Linked DNA regions of Homo sapiens. The protein of the gene in region 1 purifies or fractionates together with the protein of each later gene. This does not show direct contact. Each region holds a gene or a part of one and is shown in the gene's direction. Other genes may lie near its edges.

The links.
Region 2: the proteins of XIRP2 (region 1) and CRY1 purify together in Homo sapiens (co-immunoprecipitation; one large-scale study listed by IntAct). This does not show direct contact.
Region 3: the proteins of XIRP2 (region 1) and HECW2 purify together in Homo sapiens (affinity purification with mass spectrometry; one large-scale study listed by BioGRID and IntAct). This does not show direct contact.

The regions. Positions count from the first base shown.
Region 1 is NC_000002.12:167,251,890-167,255,548, forward strand, and holds part of XIRP2 (xin actin-binding repeat-containing protein 2), read left to right. Parts: coding exon 1-58; intron 59-2,142; coding exon 2,143-2,237; coding exon of another isoform or gene 2,238-2,276; intron 2,277-3,659.
Region 2 is NC_000012.12:107,020,459-107,024,117, reverse strand, and holds part of CRY1 (cryptochrome-1), read left to right. Parts: intron 1-1,925; coding exon 1,926-2,034; intron 2,035-3,659.
Region 3 is NC_000002.12:196,219,489-196,223,147, reverse strand, and holds part of HECW2 (E3 ubiquitin-protein ligase HECW2), read left to right. Parts: intron 1-807; coding exon 808-937; intron 938-2,206; coding exon 2,207-2,353; intron 2,354-2,994; coding exon 2,995-3,109; intron 3,110-3,659. UniProt on the Homo sapiens protein: E3 ubiquitin-protein ligase that mediates ubiquitination of TP73. Acts to stabilize TP73 and enhance activation of transcription by TP73. Involved in the regulation of mitotic metaphase/anaphase transition.

The DNA.
Region 1 (3,659 bases):
GATGCTTCTGCAACTGAGATGAGAACCACCTTCCAAGAGGAATCTGCATTTATAAGTGGTAAATGAGCTTGCAATGTGTTAAAGAAGATTAACCATTTAAAGGCATGTGTTCCATAGCCAAAATGATGTACAGTTAAAAAGAGTGCGTGGAAACAACCAAACAATATAACCTAAAACTAACAGCTTCCCATGTATGCTTATAGACTCTTTATATGCTTGCTTTTACAACATTCTTTTCACAAAAGCATAGAGTATGATTTACTTGCACTGTGTGAGAATAACAAATACTATTATACAGATTACTGGGACATATTTGTCAAGGTAAATAAGGCTTTGGATAAAGCAACAGGTATAGCAATAATTTTATTTCATGCAATTATTCTAGACAATAATAAATAATATCCTTTGGCCTAATATTGACATATTTTTAACTGCCAGGTTTAAATGATATTTGCATTGAGTTCAATACAGACTGATAGAAGTCTGAGACACAATTTACATTCTTCATGTGTGCTTTAGTATTTTTATTGATCTGTATCTCTGACAAAAGTGTGGGTGTGGAATTAGACCTTTTATATATTCAACTATTGCTACTGAGTTGGATAGAGTTAGTTTTCTCTGATGCCACATTTTTTTCTAACTGATTTTTTTCGCTTTTCTAAAAAATAAACTAAATCACTGCTCAATCAACCTCATTCACAAATGAGCGTAAACAATGCATTTAAAAATTTTGATTTTATTTGGAAGGAGGGAGGTTTAAATCATATGGACTTAGTACATGATTTTTAACATCAAAGAACAGCTCATTTCCCTACTTCTTGCAATTAATGAGGCTTCATGATAAAAGAATTTTATATAATTAATGTGCATCATTAGTTTAGTCCATTCTTTTAGACAGATTGAAAGAAATAGCAAGCTTAAAAATAAAAACTGCTGAAACTAATAATTATGCCTCCATCATATTTGCAACATATGTGTCTAGTTTATCAGGTTAATATGGTTCTTAATGTGCTTGCTTCTGGCATAATTAAGCAAAGCTGTCTAATTAATTTCAAATACTCAGCTTCTGTTAAGATAGCTCAAAAACACATAGAACATACAAAGAAACTTGTGATAAACATAAAAATGTGTCCTCTACTAGAACCAAATAAGCAAAGGAGTTCACTCAGTGGCCCAGATTGACCATCTAGGCACTAAAGTAGATATAATTATTTGTATAATGGAACCTGAGCATATTTTCTTTTATAAATAACTAATACCAAAGCTTAGTCATTCTCACAGGATCGCTGTGAGGACAAAAAGCAATTCTGAAGTGAAAGTTCTGTGTTAGTTTTAAACCACTATACAAACACTGGTTAGTAATAGAACCACTATTATTCATAGAGGCTAACATTTACAGGAAAGCCACAGGAAGTGAGCATAGGTGCTTTAGAGGAGCAAGAAAAGATGTAGGAAAACTACATAAGCAGATGCGAGAATCCAAAAAGCTCCACAATCTAAAGCCAGTTAGATTGAGGACAAATGACCCTGAGCATTTTACTGTGTTCAGGAGTCTCATTGCATTACAATTAAGAGTTGGTATCTTACAGTCAACTCTAAGTCATCAAGAAAATATTGAAGCAAATACAGTGTCCTTGGCTTAAAAAACATATGTATTTTAGAAAGATCTATCTAAAATGCTTTAAGAAGTAAAAACTTTTGACCAGCTTAGGTACAAGCCTTTATATATAGGGAAAACTCAATTACCTACAATGATAAGTTATCTCAGAGCTCCCCATTGCTGAGTATTTTATATGTATATATATATAAAAAATATACTCACATATATGCACATATATATGTTTGTAATGTACTTATATGTCTAATGAACATATTTTACTCATGTATGTTTTTTTAAATCATAAATGTCTACTCGTACAATCTATAAATGGTAGAAGCACTAGAGTAATGTAGACCATCCTAGCAGACCGTTAAACCTGATGATAGGTTAGTCTCTGTCCAGAGAAACATCATAAGGACAGTAGTCTTAGAGCTTTTCTACTTTAACCGCATGGCCAGTTAATATGTGTTTTTGTTTTGTTATGTTTTTACAATATGATTGAAGATAACACTACAGAAGGCTTTGTAAATTTTTATTTTTAGAAGCTGCTGCTCCAAGACAAGGAAATATGTATACTTTGTCAAAAGACAGTTTATCCAATGGAGTGCCTAGTGGCAGACAAGCAGAATTTTCATAAGTCCTGCTTCCGATGCCACCATTGCAACAGTAAACTAAGGTAAAATGTTTAATTGTCTTTGCCACAAATATTCCAGGAGCTGCACTCTATGTATAGCCTCATATCTCTAGGAGGATGCACATTTTTCCAGATCTTGTTGCTGCGTCAGTTAACACAACCACACAGGGAGATTTGCTCATGTTCTGTGATGTATTTCTGCGACCTTTTTCCTTTAGGAATTTTACTTTTCTAATCAAATCCAAAAGCATCCCTTTTGTCTGAACACAAAAATCACACAGATGAGTAAAATTAAGAGTTACTCTGCAAATCAAGATTTTTAAGTTAGTGTGTTAGTCTAAAGTCTAGACTCCAGATCAGGAGGTAGCACACATTTTCTGTTAAGGTCTAGATCATAAGTAATTTTGGCTTTGCAGGCCGTACTGCTTCTGTCACTACTCAATTTCTATTAGAGAGCAAGAGCAGCCACAGATAACTAAACAAATGGGTGTGGTTGTAAATAAATGGGCTTGGCTGTGTTCCAATAAAACTTCATATACCAAAACAAGTGGTGGGTAGGTTAGAATTTACCTGTCTTTGAGCTAGACTAAGTTTTTAAAAATGAAATTGAAATTTAGAAAAATATCAGTGACAGGTAAGAGAAAAACTCTGTTTTTTCTCTGGAGCAAACAGAAACACCCTATCCACACAGTTAAAATGCATTCATTTTCCAAAACTCTTGAAGTAAATGCATTTAACTGAATGTGACATTTGGTGTGACTGTAGTCTGAGATGCTAAAATTGATTTTTTTTTTTTTTGGCTAAATCTAATGTGCATCTCTCACACTATATTTTTTCTGACTTTAATTGACAATGTCGAACACCCTCATGGCAACATTTTTTTCCCTTGGTTTCCATAACAACAGAGTATAATGGCTTTTCCCCTACTCTTTGTGTGCTCCTTCTCAGGCACCTGTGTGGGGGACTCTCTGTCCATTACCAAGATGTAAGAGGTCCTCACAATTATGTTATGGGAATTTATTCTTCTCAACGTTTCTCTTCTTTCTAGTGAATCACATCCACTCCCATGATTTAAATAATCTATGTGGTAATGACTCTGAAGTCTGTACTGCTAGGCCAAATCTCTCTGTGCATCAGATGCTTATATCTCAATGACTGATATACTTCTCCAATTAGATTTCTCATAAGTACAGCAAACTCAATATGCCCCATTTTCTTCTATCTAAATTCCTTCTTTAACTTACAGTCTTTATGCTACTGTATCAGTAAATGACATTAACATTAACTCAGTGACCAAAGCATGGAGTTATCTTTGGCTCCTTCCTTTCCTTCATTCCCTACATTCAAGCCGTCACCAAGTCCTGCAATTTCTGCCCCATAAATACCTCTTAAGCTATATACTTTTCTCCATTCCCATAGCAAGTA
Region 2 (3,659 bases), on another chromosome or scaffold:
TCCAGGACATTTAAGTTTTGTACTGTTTCAATTTAAGAAAACTTAAAATTGCTAGTTCTTTCAACTTCTTAATTTTTGATCTGTGTAAAAACCCTTCGATCTTTGTTCTGTCTAGTAACTCTTCTTGCCAAGCAAATACATAAAATTAGATGCTTCCCAATAAACATTTGTCACCAGACATGATAAATTATTCATAGTTGGAGATAATTTTATTAAACTCCAATGCTTTTATATCACTATCCATCTAACAACAACAGTCTTCTCCCCTGAAATATTTGTACATTGGTAGTGGTGGGTTAGGATGGGGATCAGGTGTTAGGGAGGTGACTCCAAACCAAGGCAGAAAAGGGATGTGATAAAATATAAATGTGGGGATAGAAAGGTTTGCTTCCTACTTGGAAACCCATGAGACTTCCTAAGGTGAAATGGTGGGATGTCTTTAACATCCTCATAAAAATATAGCACCTTGACTCTTCAAGCTGTACAGATGGTGCTCCTAAAGAGGAAGAAGTGTCAGACCTGACTAGTGCACTTATGTCACTAATAACTACAGTTGTAAAAAATCAACAAGACTTATTTGGTGAAATGATGGTATCGGAATGTGTAAAGCGAACAAAATGATCTAGACCAAGCAGCTTTTTAGAACAATCTGTCCAGTAGAACTTTCTGCAATGATGGAAATGTTCTGTAGCTATACTGTTCAGTATGGTAGCCAGCCACCAGCTATACATGTGGCTGTTGAGGACTTGAAATGTGGCAAGTGTGACTAAGGAACTGATTTTTAAATTTAACTAACTTAAATTTAAATGGCTACATGTGCCTTTTGGTTACCATATTAGATAGTGCACTTCTAGAATTTGCATTTCCCTGCTTCTTAATCACTCCTCTTCACAAGTAAGAGATAATTGCTATTCTGAAAGACCATGTGGCCTGTGAAAAAGGCAGACAAATACTTAACCTTGAGATCAAAAACATAAAAGAAGCAAAATAGGAAATAAGATACGTCCAGCTGAAAAGAACAGAATCTAAATGAAACTTAACATGAGTCAAATAATAAGATTGGACCTTCCATGGGTGACATCTCTTTTAAATTTGTTCTTGGGAATGTTCCATTTCTTCGCAACAGAAGATGCACAGTAAGCAGTCTTCTGGTACTGCCCCAGAATTTTCCTAGATATCTGTCATGTGTAAGCCTTGTTACTACTTATTTCATTGAAAAAGTCTATAATCTCCACCCCAACTCCATGAAACCTTTTCTTTTTTTTTTTTTTTAGAAGTTAATCTGGCATTTTCTACACTCAGGGAATTAATAACCACATAATTTGGCATCTACTTATTAGTTTCTTTTTTTAATAAATTAGAAACTTGAAAATGGGCATTATGATTTCAATCTCTTAAATGATTACAATATTACAAAAAAGTACTCATAATCTTTTTTTTTTGTCCCCTCAGATTCCTTTTTACCATGATATTCTTAAATTATTCACTTGCTTATTCATTACATAGGATGTTTCTGGTTTTTTCCCCCCAGCAGAAGATATTCTAGATTTTTCAAGTTTTCCTTTCTATATGAAAAGCCATTTTCATACAGAAAATATTTCATCAAGTTTAAACAATGAAACCAATTTAATTGCTTTGATACTTCTTTGTATGTTTTTATGTTCACAAATTAAATTTTTGCTAATAGTCACTTTTATTTAATGAAAATTAGTGATTTTATTCAGTATTTTATTAAAATACTAGGTAATTTGTGCTATAATTAAAAAATATATATTAGTATGGTTTTTGGAAAAAGTATATATCAATAGGAGGTAATAAGATGATAGGTTGGCATTTCAACTTTTAGAATAACATGACTTTGTAATAATTTATGTCTTCTAAATATGTATTTTTTAATAATTTAAATAATACTTTCTTCTCTCTAGATTTTTGCTTCAGTGTCTTGAGGATCTTGATGCCAATCTACGAAAATTAAACTCCCGTCTGTTTGTGATTCGTGGACAACCAGCAGATGTGTTTCCCAGGCTTTTCAAGGTAATTTGAAAAATATTTGCATAAAACAATCTTTTCTCAGATAATATTACATATTTGGTAAATAAAGTTTTTTGACTAATTGAAAATGTAGCGAATATAAGTATTTTCAAGTAAAAATTTTGTGGGTTTTTTTTCTTTATTTAATGAAAAAGCTATACATGGTAAAAATCAGACAGTGAGAAAATAGTTTACAATGAAAAGTTCAATCTTTCTTCTACCTTAAACTGCTCGTTGCCCTCCCAGAAGCAACAGCTACTACCAGTTTCTTATGTATCCAATTCCAGTTTCTTGTTTATCCAATTAGAAATATTCTTTGCATAAACAAGAATTTTTTGTGTGTGTATATATATATATTTTTGTGTGTGTGTGTGTATATATATATGTGTATACACACACACACATCCATGTGTTTGTGTCTGTGTTACTGTCCCCTTTGTTAAAAGTTAAAATGACACACTATACACACCATTCTCTGCCATGCTTTGTTCACATAACCATATCTTTTGGAAGTTGTTCCATATCATTTCCTCGGTCTTTCAGATGACTTCATAGTATTCCATTTTGTAGATGGCTATAATTTTTTAAACTAGCTTTCTACTGAACGTTTAATTATTTTCTCTGTAGGCCTTTTGCTAGTATAAATGCCAGTGAACTTACTTGTCCACATTTATGAATCTTTGCTCACATGGGCCAGTACATTTGTGGGATAATTCTTAGAAGACTTTCTGGGTCAAAGGATTGTAACAATGGACATTTTACCAATAATACAGAATTTGTAGTGCTTTTTTTTTTCTTTTTTTGAGATGGAGTCTTGCTCTTGTCGCCCAGGCTAGAGTGCAATGGCGCAATCTCAGCGCACTACAACCTCTGCCTCCTGGGTTCAGGTGATTCTTCTGCCTCAGCTTCCTGAGTAGCTGGGATTACTGGCGCACGCCACCATGCCTGGCTAATTTTGTACTTTTAGTAGAGACAGGGTTTCACCATGTTGGTCAGGCTGGTCTCGAACTCCTGACCTTAGGTGATCCACCGGCCTCGACCTCCCAAAGTGCTGGAATTAAAGGTGTGAGCCACTGCGCCCAGCACTGTAGTGCTTTTTAAAAAACTTAGTAGGATCTTAAAAATCTTTAAAAATGTTTAAGATACCTAATCTTATCTCTTCCCTTTTTTCCAAATGAAAAAATTAGGCCTAGAGAATAATTGAGTTGCCCAAGATCATACAACTAGCTCATGGAAATGCCCAGACCAGAAACTGAGTTTCCTCATTGCCCTTTTTGTATTCATCCCTTCCTATTTATTACTGTATTAGTCCATTTTCACATTGCTGCAAAGAAATATCTGAGACTGTATAATTTATAAAGAAAAGAGATTTAATTGGCTCACAGTTCTGCAGGCTGTACAGGAAGCATAGTGGCTTCTGGGAAGGCCTCAGGAAACTTACAATCATGGTGGAAGGGGAAGGGAAAGGGGAAGTAAGAACTTCACATGGCCAGAGCAGGAGGAAGAGAGAAGGAGCGGGGAGGTGCCACACTTTAAAAAAAACAAAAAACAAAAAAAAAAACAGATCTTGCAAGCACTCACTCACTATCAGAGCACCAAGGGGAAATCTGCCACCATGATCCAATCAC
Region 3 (3,659 bases), about 29 Mb from region 1:
GACTATTCATCAAGTAGCTATTCAGATGTCTGGTACATGCTTGATGCCTAATGAATGTTCAGATTGAACTGAAAAAAAATGACCCTTAAAATTGGGTTAAGGGGAGTGAAATTTCAAAACAGCTATAGCAAATCAATGACTACCACTGTACAACTGGGCCATGGAACAGTAACTTACCTCATGTCGATTCTTTCTCTACAATTAAAAAAAGTGGGGGAAAAATACAGATTGACGGCAGGTTCTGTGGCTTACTATTTTCAGAATAAGAACCATGAAGAAAAAGGGAATGTATGTGAAGATGAATCATGTCTTTAATAAAAAATAAAATAAAATAAATATTAAAATAAAAATCATGTCTTTCAATTAAAAAAAGTTAAAATATAGAAATATATAAATAATTTCAAATTAAGATAACAGTATTTTAAGGTAGTATAATATGGCCAGAAAGAATAATGGATCCAAGTTGTCAACCCGAGTGCCAGTTCCTGATCTGGCATTGATGATGGATGACTGCGCAGATGGCACTCATTCTTTGCACCTCCAGTTCTGTGTCTATAAAGGAAGACGCAGGCTGAATGATTCCTGTGGCATATTATATATTTAGGACTTTCTAATTTTATAACAAATTTCTGAATTATTTCACTGGTTTGGTTTAATTACTGGACTTGGACTAAGAACATTCCAGAAATCACTGCCTATGTAGTGGCTCTTATTCTTCTCTTTAATTCTTAGTTTCTTTCCTTATGACTCTGGGTTTTTGCTAATAGCCATGCCTACATATTTGTTTCTGTCTGTTTGTCATCTTAGTCTATGTGACCTGAGTGACCTAGAATACCTTGATGAAGAGTTCCATCAGAGCCTGCAGTGGATGAAAGACAATGATATCCATGACATCCTAGACCTCACGTTCACTGTGAACGAAGAAGTATTTGGGCAGGTGTGTGTATCTGCACACCTGGCGCCTAAGTGTGGTAACTGAAGGCTATTGATGAGTGAAGAATTAACTCCATGGCTAAGATCAGATGCTTATTTATTCGTGGTTTATTGGGTGATTTAAACTCAGGATCACACACAGTTATAATAACCGCAGTTATAAAGATTAGAATTAATGTCAGCTGCAGATTAAGATGCTGTAAATTACAGATGGTGATAACTGTTTATGTTGTAAGCAATCTTCTTTTTATTTCCAACTAAAATATCCCCCAAAATATGAGAATTTACCTTATATAGAATGCAGTTTTTTAAAGTCCACACTACAGAATTTTTTAATTGGCATTTATAGAATGGTGGCTGGGCACGGTGGCTCATGCCTGTAATCCCAGCACTTTGGGAGGCCAAGGCAGGAGGATCAGTTGAGCCTAGAAGTTCAGGACCAGCCTAGGCAACATGGTGAAACCCTATCTCTACAAAAAATACAAAAATTAGCCAGGTGTGGTGGCACATACCTGTAGTCCCAGCTACTCAGGAGGCCAAGGTGGGAGGGTCACCTGAGCTGGAGAGGTTGAGGCTGCAGTGAGCCTGGATCATGCCACTGCACTCTAGCCTGGGGGACGAGAGTGAGACCCTGTCTCAAAAAAGAAAAGAAAAATAAAGAGAACCAAAATTGATTTTTTTGAAGCTAAGGGAACATAAACAATGTTTTGGGGAAGACTTAAGAACAGAATATATTAATTTTTTTTTCAAAATTGGTGGAAGAGTAGGGAAAACGTTTCTTCCAGAAATTATATACCAGTTTATAATTAATATTCTTATTTAGGCATTAATCTTTAGCTGCTTTTCTGCATTCCATGTGTTTTGAAAAAGTTCTCAATTTAACATTCACTTGAGTGTAATTCTGCTTTAAAGTAAATCTTTACGCTAGATATAGTCAATTCTGAGAAATTTGTGAAAATGGGTTTTGTCAAACATTCAAATAGTAGCAGGCTAGTATCTGAAGCCGATTCATCGGCATTTTAAAACTTAACCTGTAGTAACAGCAATACATATATATACTTTAATCACCAAAGCTTTCAAGCACCCCCTCAATGCCTATTTTTTCCTGAGTGTGTGTGCTCCGTGAGTGCCTGGGGCCTCACTGCCAGCTTGTGGGATGTGCCTAGGGCAGGGCTGGGACAGGTAGCTGGCTGATTTCAGCTCAATGCTAGTAATGTTGTTATAACATTAAGAGTATTGCTTTGTAGTCATTCTTTTTATTTTGTAATCTCAGATAACTGAACGAGAATTAAAGCCAGGGGGTGCCAATATCCCAGTTACAGAGAAGAACAAGAAGGAGTACATCGAGAGGATGGTGAAGTGGAGGATTGAGAGGGGTGTTGTACAGCAAACAGAGAGCTTAGTGCGTGGCTTCTATGAGGTAAAGACAATCAGCAGTAGGAGGAGTTTGCAGTCTGATATCAATGATGCCACAGTCCATCTTATTGTACTTTACATGTGTAGACTATTTCTGCTGTATTTACTGTTGCTCTTTCCATGCGAAAAGTTCAGTATTTTTTCCCTTATGTTTCAAGAGCACCAAAAGAAGCTTAACTCACTGTTACGAGAGATCACTGAAATAAATGTTATGGACTGCATTCAAGTAGCATTTGTTGATTTAATGACCACTAGTAACATTTAAGCCATGCATCTTATGCTTAGATATGGGTAATCAAATCTCATGCTTGCTATGTGAAATAATTATATCTGAGATCAGAATGAGTTGGCATGTATTGTATGTGACTTTTTCTGTAGAAACACTAGATAGTTTCCTAAAGGTGGACGGGACCTAGATTAATCAGCAATCAATTATAAAACAAAAATTCTGTCAAGGCAAATCTCATCAACCTTATACTAAAGAATGCCTTATATTTGTAGGGAGCTTTACAGGTTTTCAAGTGCCAACACAAGGTACACACATATTATTCCTGAAACTCCATGTGTCCCCTTTTCTAAGGCTTAATTATAGCTGATATTTCTCCAGGCTCCTAAGCCATGCCTTGTACTCTTTTTATTCCACAGGTGGTGGATGCCAGGCTGGTATCTGTTTTTGATGCAAGAGAACTGGAATTGGTCATCGCAGGCACAGCTGAAATAGACCTAAGTGATTGGAGAAACAACACAGAATATAGAGGAGGTGAAATTTGATTTATAGATGGCTAGATTTTAAATTTCAAATTAAAGGAAGGCATGGTTCAGCTTGCCAACTGAATATAGGACAGGCAACAGCACTTGGACTCTAATCATAGGTCTGATGCAGGCTCCCTTGAGACCTTGGGCAAGGTACATTCTCTTCTTTTCCTAATTACCTCATCTGTCAGATGGGAGAAGGACTGTTTACACACCGTCAAAGGATGTCATAACTCTTAATTGTTGGTGAGGAAATGTGACCGTAAGAACACTAATTAATTACTTTATCGTGTTGTCAGTGAAGCACCAAGGAGCTAACATCCAGCTGGTCAAACTCCACCTATTCCATTTTGTTTCTAAAACTTAGAAAAGCACACCCTTTGAGCTTCCCAATCAGCACAGTTTTTCCACTGTTCACTACGCTCCTTATCAGTTGTAATTCATAGTCAGAACACTTGAATGGAATAAGACACAGTTCCCAAAATACAACATTATTGGAGAAGTTCTAAATTCAAGCATGAATTTCAAGTGAAAAGAAGACTGTAGTAAGATTAATT